Linked DNA regions of Homo sapiens. The protein of the gene in region 2 purifies or fractionates together with the protein of the main gene of each other region. This does not show direct contact. Each region holds a gene or a part of one and is shown on either strand. Other genes may lie near its edges.

The links.
Region 1: the proteins of SAE1 (region 2) and SUMO3 purify together in Homo sapiens (affinity purification with mass spectrometry; 3 studies listed by BioGRID and IntAct, with this or other methods). This does not show direct contact.

Annotation. Positions count from the first base shown.
Region 1 is NC_000021.9:44,804,824-44,808,066, forward strand, and holds the end of SUMO3 (small ubiquitin-related modifier 3 isoform 1 precursor), read right to left. Parts: intron 2,218-3,243; coding exon 2,128-2,217; 3' UTR 794-2,127; downstream 1-793. UniProt on the Homo sapiens protein: Ubiquitin-like protein which can be covalently attached to target lysines either as a monomer or as a lysine-linked polymer. Does not seem to be involved in protein degradation and may function as an antagonist of ubiquitin in the degradation process.
Region 2 is NC_000019.10:47,196,734-47,204,030, reverse strand, and holds part of SAE1 (SUMO-activating enzyme subunit 1), read right to left. Parts: intron 6,799-7,297; coding exon 6,654-6,798; intron 361-6,653; coding exon 291-360; intron 1-290. UniProt on the Homo sapiens protein: The heterodimer acts as an E1 ligase for SUMO1, SUMO2, SUMO3, and probably SUMO4. It mediates ATP-dependent activation of SUMO proteins followed by formation of a thioester bond between a SUMO protein and a conserved active site cysteine residue on UBA2/SAE2.

The DNA.
Region 1 (3,243 bases), on a different chromosome or scaffold from region 2:
TGCTGGTTCTGCTGTGAGGTGTTGTGGGTGGAAGTTCAAGCAGCGCTGCCCTAATACATCCACATATGCTCCTGGCCATTATTCTTATCTAACCTACGGTGCCTGGGACACATCCCTTTCCTCATTGATTTTGGCAGCCGCTTCGCCCCAGGCTGCCTAGGGAATCTGGCAGATGTCCCCATCCTGTATTGTGCCTTAATCCGTGCACTCTTCCTGGTGCAAGTGAATCACGTGTTCCATCTCCACAGCTGCCCATCTTTCTTCACCTTGGGTTCATTCAACTGATGGGCTAAAACAGCTCATTTTCAACCTGGGTTTTGTTACACCACTGCACACTGGGAAATTCTTAAAGCCAAATCAATGTCAGTTCAGTTTCAAAGCAGATAGGTAAGTTGTCCATGGCAGAAGGAAAGCTGACTTACATTCAAACACCAGAAAACGAGAGATGTCCTAGACTAACACCCAAGCTCACCTGCCTCTAAAATCCACCCTTTCTTTACATACGAAACCCAGGAGAGGGAGGGTAACATGTCACAGTGATGCCAGCTCAGACAGCTGTCAGCCAGGAGGTCTCTGAGGAGAGGATGCATCCCTCAGCAGGAAGAAGGCTGGACTAGCATTGGTGATGTGCCAGGGGAGGGGAAATGAGCTGCCAGGCGAATACTAACCTTCCAGCGGCTAGCTTTTCAATCAAAGTTTCTCAGTGCAGTGGCTGCCTGGAATGGTCAATTCAAACACTGAATTGTACCAGTATGCCCCAACCTTCAAATGCAGTGTTTAGTAGAAGCCAAGAGACAGAATACCAAACTATATTTACTGTTTACAGTAGTAAAGGACAACAAATAATGTACAAATTGGTGAATAAACACAACAGAGCCAACAAACATCCCACCCGAGCCCATACAGCAAACAGGAAATGAGAACATTTCAGCAAGATTTCAAGCAAGCAAGAGATGATGGGTCATTGTTCAGGTGACTGTAAAAAGGCAGAGAATGGCCACCAAGCAGCAATGGAGCCTCAGGGAAGGACAATAGGCAGAACTATGAAAATGTTTAATTGGTATAGATCCCAAAATATTTCACAGAACTGAAATCACCAGACTAATGCATAAATTCAATACCTATTTGGAAAGCAGCACGGCACAAACCCACGAGAAGAACATGAAGTCATCATTCCATGGGTTCATTTGTAACCACACTTGGAAGTAGCTCTTATACACGACAACATAACTGCAAATTCAGCAATACTTAGTCTTACTTTTTTATGTATAGACCATAATCATTCATCAGAAGCAAATACTAGAAGAAATCTGAGGCCACAACACCATTACCAAATGAGAAATGTGGGAATTTCTTCAATATTAAGAGGGAGAAAAAGGCCAATTTTGGTTGTGCCAATCCTTGCCTGTGTACCAACGCCAGGTACTGAGCAGGGAGTGGGGTGGGAGGGGTGGCAGGGGGGTGGGTCCTGGGCCTCAGACCCCGAGGTTACATGCTTGAGGGCCAGAGAGCACGTGGGGTCAAATTACCAAAAGACTCGGTTATTTTTTAACCTTTGAAGAAGCATTCCAGTATTTTCCCTTCAACTTTTCCATATACTGACAAAGCTTAAATTTGCAATATTTAGCATTTTAATCACCTGTGCCTGTAACAGCAAGTGACAGTCTGTCCTCCCTACCAACCTTGCCCCCAATACCTGTCCAACAGCTGCATCCCCACTGCGGGAAACACCAATTCTCTATGTGACTGGAGTGAGCAGGGGAGAGGCAACCAACTCAGGAGTCAGATCCCTGGCCAGACTAAAAGCGAACATTCAGGCTATAATTTTGGGGTTAAAAAAATGTTGTAGGAGGGGGGGAAAACACAAATGAGCACACAAAAGTACCCACAATATCTTGCAACTCATTTTACCTGAACAAAGATAACAATTCTGATTGGCCCAATTTAAGTTACAGATTCATCCCTGCAGATATAGTTTTGAGTTGCACTTGAAGTACATCAAAGAGAGGAAAATCATCGTGGTGAATGTCCTCGAGTTTCCGCAGACACCTTTGTGGTCGGCATGGTCACGTGCTCACCATTCAACAGCAATGCGAGGATGGACGGCCCGGGCTGGGGACGGGCCCTCTAGAAACTGTGCCCTGCCAGGCTGCTCTCCGGCACACCTCCCGTCTGCTGCTGGAACACGTCGATGGTGTCCTCGTCCTCCATCTCCAGCTGTCATGGTTGTCACAACAGGCACAGCGAGAGAGAGGGGAGCCTGTTAGTTTTCATCAGAGAGTGGGAAGATCCTCACTGGCATGAGTGTTCCCTGACACTAGCGACATCACCTGGTCACACCTTGGCTCTTGTCCGTCCCCTCACTGCAGCTCAGCACGCATGGAAGAGGCATTGCTGTATGCTCACTACAGCCCTTACGGTTCAACAAGCTTCCCCTAACAAAACTCACAAAAGCAGATTCAAAGCTAAAATGTTAACTGAGAGAAAAACTGAGTCTAGAAGATAAACTGAAATGTCTAAAATTCTTACTGAAAATTACACAAAATCAGATTCTAATTAAGAACATCTGATTAGCAGCACTGAGTCCTAGGACCCACAGGAGCCTTGCGCTTTATACCAAGTGCGGGGGACCATGCCATGAAAGCCAAAGCCCCCAGCTCACAGAAGGGCCCGTCAAGTGAGGGTCCATTGCCAGCTTCTCCCCGCCCCTCCCCATTTAAAGCCCAGGCAAGGTAGTGAAACACCCCCGCTCACTTCTCTCCTCCTGACACAGTGGGCGCAAAACACCCACCCTGATCTTCTTCCATCCTCTAAGCAAGAGGAAGCTTCTGCCAGTTCCTACACAGACTCAGCAAGGCTGGAAGTAGTCATGCTCCCAGATGGAAAGGAGTCCCATCAGGGCTGTCGGCCACCCTCACCCTGCCACCGACACTATGGGCTGGAGGGAGAGCCCCCAGGCAGGGCTCCCTCTGCCTCTCGGTCCACCTGTCCACAGCCAGCCCCCTGACCCCCAGTCAAGCCCCAGAGACTCCACGAGGCCCTCCCTGCTCAGCTGCTCTCAGCAGCTTCTCCCTGGTGAACACTCCCAGAGCTGCCACTGCCTCAGCGGTGTGTAGGTTTCCTCAAGTAGGTACAAATGGATACTTGTTGCAAAGATGTTTTCAATATTTATTAAATACTGAATAGTAAATATTTAAAATCTTAAATGTTTTGCAAAAATATTTCCACATAAAACATTCCAGT
Region 2 (7,297 bases):
CAATACAACAGGCACTGGATAACTAATACAGTTAGGGGAGAGCAGATCACACCTTCGAGGCACTATGGCCAACTGTGAGCTAAGCACAGAGCAGGCACTCCAAGGTCATTTGCTGAATGGCACCTGGATGGGCCAGAGAAAATGGGATGAGGTGGAAATGGGGAGGGCATGAAACAAAGATGAATGGGGTGAGAGAAAGCAGGCAGCTGTCTAAGACAGTTTCCATTCTCTCTGTCAGCACATATACAAAGTCATGGTTAACAATTTTCTGCTCCACAGTGATGTTTTACCTTCACAATTTCCTGTGCCAAAATCCCTCCAACCACCGCACACACTGGGGCCATCTCGGAGAAGCAGTACCTAAAAGAGAGGAAGACAAGGAAAATGGAGCACTGGGAACAGAACTGTGACCATGACATCTGGAGAAATTCAGTAGTAGGCTCTCCTGAATAAAAACAACTTCTAGCAGGAGGGCCCGATTCAGATAGCAGTGTTAATGCTGGCATCTAGGCGTGAAAATGAAATCTGAGCAAGGGATTCATAAGTGGTTGGAAAAGACCTTTGAACTTTGGCAAGCAGAAATTCTTTCACAATACTTTTATTTTTACCTTTATAAGTTAAAGGAAAGACTATATCTGTGCTTCCTATATCTGTCCTAGAGATATCAGATGTTTCAGTGCCCTGGTCACATTCTCGCAATTCTCTTCTTACCCATAATGGCCAGTGGGTTCTATATGCTATTCCCAGACAAATGTCAGGGAGCAGGCCTGTGTTAACATGTAGGAAGCAAGGGAAATTTGAGGCGTGAAATTAAAGTATGAGGGCAGAAAAAGTCTTCACAACCCACATAGAAACCAGCCCTTCTGGGCCAGGATGGGGCATCTAGAGGACAAATTTTAGATGACACAGTCACCTGCCCCTCCAAGTTACCCATCCTAGTAAGCAAATCACTTAATTCCACCACTTCCCCAAAGGAAGTGTGCTCTGCCAGCTCCTACTCCTGAACACAATGCTGTGTGCTCACCAAGCAAACTGGAACACAGACAAGTGAAAGGGAAAGCCTCCCTACAGAACTACCTCCAATCTCCCCAGTGTGGTGCACATCCTTCTAGACTTTTTTTGAGACGGAGTCTCGCTCTGTCACCCAGGCTGGAGTGCAGTGGCGCGATCTTGGCTTACTGCAAGCTCCGCCTCCCGGATTCATGTCATTTTCCTGCCTCAGCCTCCTGAGTAGCTGAGACTACAGGCACCCGCCACCACGCCCGGCTACTCTGAATTTTTAGTAGAGACGGGGTTTCACCATGTTGGCCAGGATGGTCTCAATCTCTTGACCTCGTGATCCGCCCGCCTCGGCCTCCCAAAGCGCTGGGATTACAGGTGTGAGCCACTGCGCCCAGCCCCTTCTAGACATTTTTAAAAGTGCACAATCTAAACGGGTATAATTAGGGCGGGCTCAGTGGCTGATGCCTGTAATCCCAGCACTTTGGGAGGTCGAGGTGGGCGGATCACAAAGTCAAGAGATCGAGATCATCCTGGCCCACATGGTGAAACCCCGTTTCTACTAAAAATACAAAAATTAGCTTGGTGTGGTGGGGTGAGCCTGTAGTCCCAGCTACTCAGGAGGTTGAGGCAGGAGAATCGCTTGAACCTGGGAGGCATAGGTTGCAGTGAGCTGAGATCGCACAACTACACTCCAGCCTGGTGACAGGGCAAGACTGTCTCAAAAAATAAATAAATAAATAAATAGGTATAATTTTAAACCCAAATATTATCAACTATTACTCTTCTGTTCTATAACCTATTGAGGGACATTTAAGCTGTTCAACACTGTAATCATACATCTTGACAAAGACACAGGCGTCGAAATAATTCCTTAAGACAAATTTCTAAATATAGCAATGCTAGTTTTTCATATGTATTGCCAAAATGCCCTCCCAAAAGGCTGTATCCATTCCAATCCCAAGAGCTGTGTCCAAAGGCACCTCCGGCTCCTTACGCCCTGGCCAGGACCAGCACATTCCCATTTTGTTCATCCAGGGGTAACATCTTCCTGCTTATCAAGGTCCACTACAGAGCTCTAAAATACATGGAGAACTAGGGCTGGGTGCGGTGGCTCACATCTGTAATCCCAGCACTTTGGGAGGCCAAGGCGGGTGGATCATTTGAGGTCAGGAGTTCAAGACCAGCTTGACCTACATAGTGAAACCCCGTCTCTACTAAAATACAAAAGTTAGCCGGGTGTGGTGGCGGGCAGCTGTAATGCCAGATACTCGGGAGGCTGAGGTGGAAGAATTGCATGAACCCAGGAGGTGGAGGTTGCAGTGAGCCGAGATGGTGCCACTGCACTCCAGCCTGGGTGAGAGAGAGACTCCCAATAATAATAATTAAAAAAACTCCTCCCATTGCTGGTAGAATCTCATTTTGGCCGTATTGGAGGAATAGTTCAGTCTGGCCAATATGGTGAAACCCCGTCTCTACTAAAAATACAGAAATTAGCTGGGCGTGGTGGCACGTGCCTATAGTCCCAGCTACTCCAGAGGCTGAGGCAAAAGAATCACTTAAAGCTGGGAGGCAGAGGTTGCAATAAGCCGAGATCACGCCACTGCACTCCAGCCTGGGTGACACAGCAAGACTCTGATTCAAAAAAAAAAAAAAAAAAAAAAAAAAAAAGGAACCAGATAACAGGCCAGGTGCAGTGGCTCATGCCTGTAATCCCAGCACTTTCGGAGGCCAAGCTGGGTGGATCATGAGGTCAGGAGTTTGAGATCAGTCTGGCCAATATGGTGAAACCCCATCTCTACTAAAAATACAAAAATTAGCCGGGCGTGGTGGCACGCGCCTGTAGTCCCAGCTACTCAGGAGGTTGAGACAGAAGAATCACTTGAACCACAGAGCACAGAGGCGGAGGTTGCAGTGAGCCAAGATCGGGCCATTGCACTCTAGCTTGGGTGACAGAGTAAGACTCCATCTCAAAAAAAAATAAAAAAAATAAAAAAATAAAAAAAAATAGCTGGGCATGGTGGCGTATGCCCGTAATCCCAGCTACTCAGGAGGCTGAGGCAGGAGATTCACTTGAACCCGGGAGGTGGAGGTTGCAGTGAGCCGAGATCATGCCACTGCACTCTAGCCTAGGTGACAAAGTGAAACTTTGTCTCAAAAACAAACAAACAAACAAAAGAACCAGATAATAAAATATTTTCAGCTTTATGGGCCATATGGTCTTTGTTATAACTATTTAACCCTGCTGTGGCACAAAAGCTGCCACAGATAATATATAAATGAGTAAGTGTGCCAATAAAACTTTATTTACAAAAAGAGGTGGCAAGCCAGTTTGCCAAGGGCTATTCCAAATTAAAAGAGATACAAGTGGCTGACGCCTGTCTATCCCAGAAGTTTTGGAAAGCCAAGGCAGAAGGATGGCTTGAATCCAGGAGTCTGAGAACAGCCTGGGCAGCAGAGTGAGACCCCCGTCTCTACAACAAAAATAAATAAGTATTAATTATCATTTAACTCAGGCAGATGTGCTTTGTATACTCTCTTGTTATGCGGTTCATAACTTTAAAAAATAGGAAACAGCCTGGTGAACATAGTGAGACCCTGTCAATACAAAAAAAAAAAAAAAAAAAAAAAATTAGGCAGGCTTGGTAGTACACGCCTATAGTCCCAGCTACGCAAGAGGCCGAGATGAGAGTGTTGCCTGAGCCCAGGAGGTTGATGCTGCAGTGAGCTATGATGTGCCACTGCACTCTAGCCTAGGCAACAGAGAGAGACCCTATCTTAAAAAAAAAAAAAAAAAGAGGCTGGGCGTGGTGGCTCACACTTGTAATCCCAACACTTTGGGAGGCCGAGGCAGGTGGATCATGAGGTCAGGAGATCAAGACCATCCTGGCTAACACAGCGAAACCACATCTCTACTAAAAAATACAAAAAAAATTAGCTGGGCGTGGTGGCGGGCGCCTGTTATCCCAGCTACTGGGGAGGCTGAGGCAGGAGAATGGCGTGAACCCGGGAGGCGGAACTTGCAGTGAGCCAAGATCATGCCATCGCACTCCAGCCTGGGGGACAGAGCGAGACTCTGTCTCCAAAAAAAAAAAAAGCCATCATCTAAACATAGGCAGCAGTTTACAAGGTGCCTTTGTAACATCAGCACCGTGAGGTCAGCGGCTGATGACACTGTACAGGCTTGGATCTCATGGTAACTCACTGGGGCACTCATCTCTTGGTGGAGGAATGACCAGTTTGTGAGAAGCAAGTGTTTCCTCTGCTGTGCTTCGCAGCAGGAAGAAGGACTGGGTCATGCAGGGCTTCAGTTCCAATAATCCCAGCCAGTCAGCCAGTGGCAAGCGGCAGCCACTGAGCATACCTGGGGCTGTGTGCTGGGCCGTGAGTGTGCAGCCAAGTGACTACTTGGGCATTCAAAGTGATGAACGGTCTGGCTCTGCATCACCGGCCAGCAGAGTTGAAGGCCCTGCTTCCTAGAAGAGGAAAGCCACAGCCTAACGAGCTGCTGGCTGGTTTTCTCTCCAAAGTGGTTCCTTCCCTGCCCACCCTCTTTGGGGAAACCGCTTTTCCATGTCTCAGTCTCGTGTGCTCAGGCACTGCCACTCTATTGCTGCCTTTTTTTTTTTTTTTTTTTTTTTGAGAAGGAGTCTCCCTCTCGCTCTGTCGCCCAGGCTGGAGTGCAGTGGCGTGATCTCAGCTCACTGCAACCTCTGCCTCCCGGGTTCACGCCATTCTCCTGCCTCAGCCTCCCGAGTAGCTGGGACTTAGGCACCCACCACCACACCTGGCTAATTTTTTGTATTTTTAGTAGAGATGGGGTTTCACCATGTTAGCCACGATGGTCTCAATCTCCTGACCTCATGATCTGCCTGTCTCGGCCTCCCAAAGTGCTGGGATTACAGGCGTGAGCCACCGCGCCCAGCCTTACGCTATATGTATTGAGACACGGTCTCTCTCTGTCACCCAGGCTGGAATGCAGTGGTGCAATCTTGGTTCACTGCAACCTCTGCTTTCCTGGGCTCAAGCGATGCTCTAGCCTCAGCCTCCAGAGTAGCTGAGACTACAAGCACCAGTCATCGATGCCCAGTTAATTTTTCTATTTTTTGTAGAGACAGGGTTTCACCATGTTGTCAAGGTTGGCCTCAAACTCCTAAGCTCAAAGCAATCTGCCTGCCTCAACCTCCCAAAGTGCTGGGATTATAGGTGTGAGCCACTGTACCAGGACAATCATGGCTTTTTGGGTCAGGGCACCACAGGTGCTTCAAAGACCACTGCTGGCCCTAAATGGAGTGGGGTTTGCTGTTGCTCACCTGAAGTTCCCAGCAGGAAGTCAACAAAGAAAGGACTAGGGACTCTGGCAGACCTTACTGTTGATAAGAAACCAAGGTAGCATGCTGCTACTAGAGCAAGCACTGTAATGATACCTGGGGTGGGATCTGGGTTGGCTACTTACTACCTGATGCCTAGTACATAACAGCTGCTCAGTAAACTGCAGCCATCATTATCACTGCTACAAGCTGGAGGCACTGCAAAGCCGAGTTTAGGAAGCCTCTCAAGACATGGAAAGGGAATTAGGGTGTGTACATGATCCCAGAGCTGCTTGGAAGGAGATGTGGATGGAGCGCGTGGTGGCTCATGCCTGTAATCTCAGCACTTTGGGAGGCCAAGGTAGGCGGATCACCTGAGGTCAAGAGTTCAAGACCTGCCTGGCCAACATGGAAAACCCCATCTCTACTAAAAATACAAAAAAAATTAGCTGGGCGTGGTGGCAGGCACCTGTAATCCCAGCTACTCAAAAGGCTGAGTTAGGAGAATCGCTTGGACCCAGGCGGCAGAAGTTGCGGTGAGTTGAGATTGTGCCATTGCACTCCAGCCTGGGCAACAAGAGCAAAACTCTGTCTCAAAAAAAAAAAAGAGAGAGAGAGATTGTGACCTAGTCACTATGTGGTCTTCTCCAATCAAATCCTAAGCCTGTTTATGAGAGCAAAAAGGTAGTCACGTAAGGTGAAAGCATGGAGTGTCCAAGTGAGAGGATGCTGGGAACATGGGTGGTTTTGCTGCTGGGGGTATGAATTGATAGGATACCAATGGAGGCAAGGTGGCAATGCTGACCAAATGATAAATTACAACCTTCTGACCCAGCAACTCCCTTCCTCCTAATTATCCTGCAGTTGTACCTGCACACGTACGACACAAGGTCACACACTGCAGTGTTACGCAGTTAGAAAAGCCTGAACACAACTTGAGTGAGCAGGCAACTGGTTCAATAAACTCCATCGCTTCACACTCTAGAATACTAAGGAGCTGTGGAAAAGAGGGAGCAAACTATGTACTGATCTGGAGATGTCCCCAAGAGATAACAAGATCACATAAAGTGAAAAAAGGTAGAGAATAATGTTTACAGATCTTACATTGCCTTGAATTTTGAACCACGTGAATATAAGATACTTATTGTAAAAATCAGAATCTGTCCCCTCTTTATTTTTTATATATTGCTATTCTAGTGGAGAGGCAGAAGTCTACAGGAGCGAGCAGAATGTGGCAGGGTGCTCTCTGAAGGGTTTCTAATAAAAGAGCTTGTCAAATTAAGGCAAATCCTGAAAACAAACTTTATCTGTCCAGACTAAACAGTGATAAATACTGACACCAACCTGACAAAGTCCTCAGGAAGCAGGTCAGGACTAATACCCAGTGAGTCAAGCACATCATTTCGTATCTGGAGCAACAACTCAGAATCTTCCTCATATGTATCAGAACTGGGATCTCTTCCTTTATCTGTACGGAACTTTAAGAGCACTGGGAATAAGAAAAAGAAGGCAGGTTATAAAGCCACTTTTTTTTTTTTTTGGAGATGGAGGCTCACACTGTCGCCCAGGCTGGAGTGCAATGGCACAATCTTGGCTCACTGCAACCTCTGCCTCCCGGGTTCAAGTGATTCTTCTGCCTCAGCCTCCTGAGTAGCTAGGACTACAGGCACGAACCACCATGCCTGGCTAATTTTTGTATATTTAGTAGAGACGGGTTTTCACCATGTTGGTCAGGCTTGTCTCAAACTCCTGACCTCGTGATCCGCCCGCCTCGGCCTCCCAAAGTGCTGGGATTACAGGTGTGAGCCACGGCACCTGGCCACCTTTTTTTATTTATTCAACAAACATAGTCAGAGAGGCAATCCAATAATTATAAAAGCAATTTACCTTACTGTGAAAAGTGCTGTGACAGCATAATAGGGCGTCTGACACCCTCTGTAGGGTGGTATCAGGAAGGCTTCCCCGAGGAAACAATTCAATGAAGTATA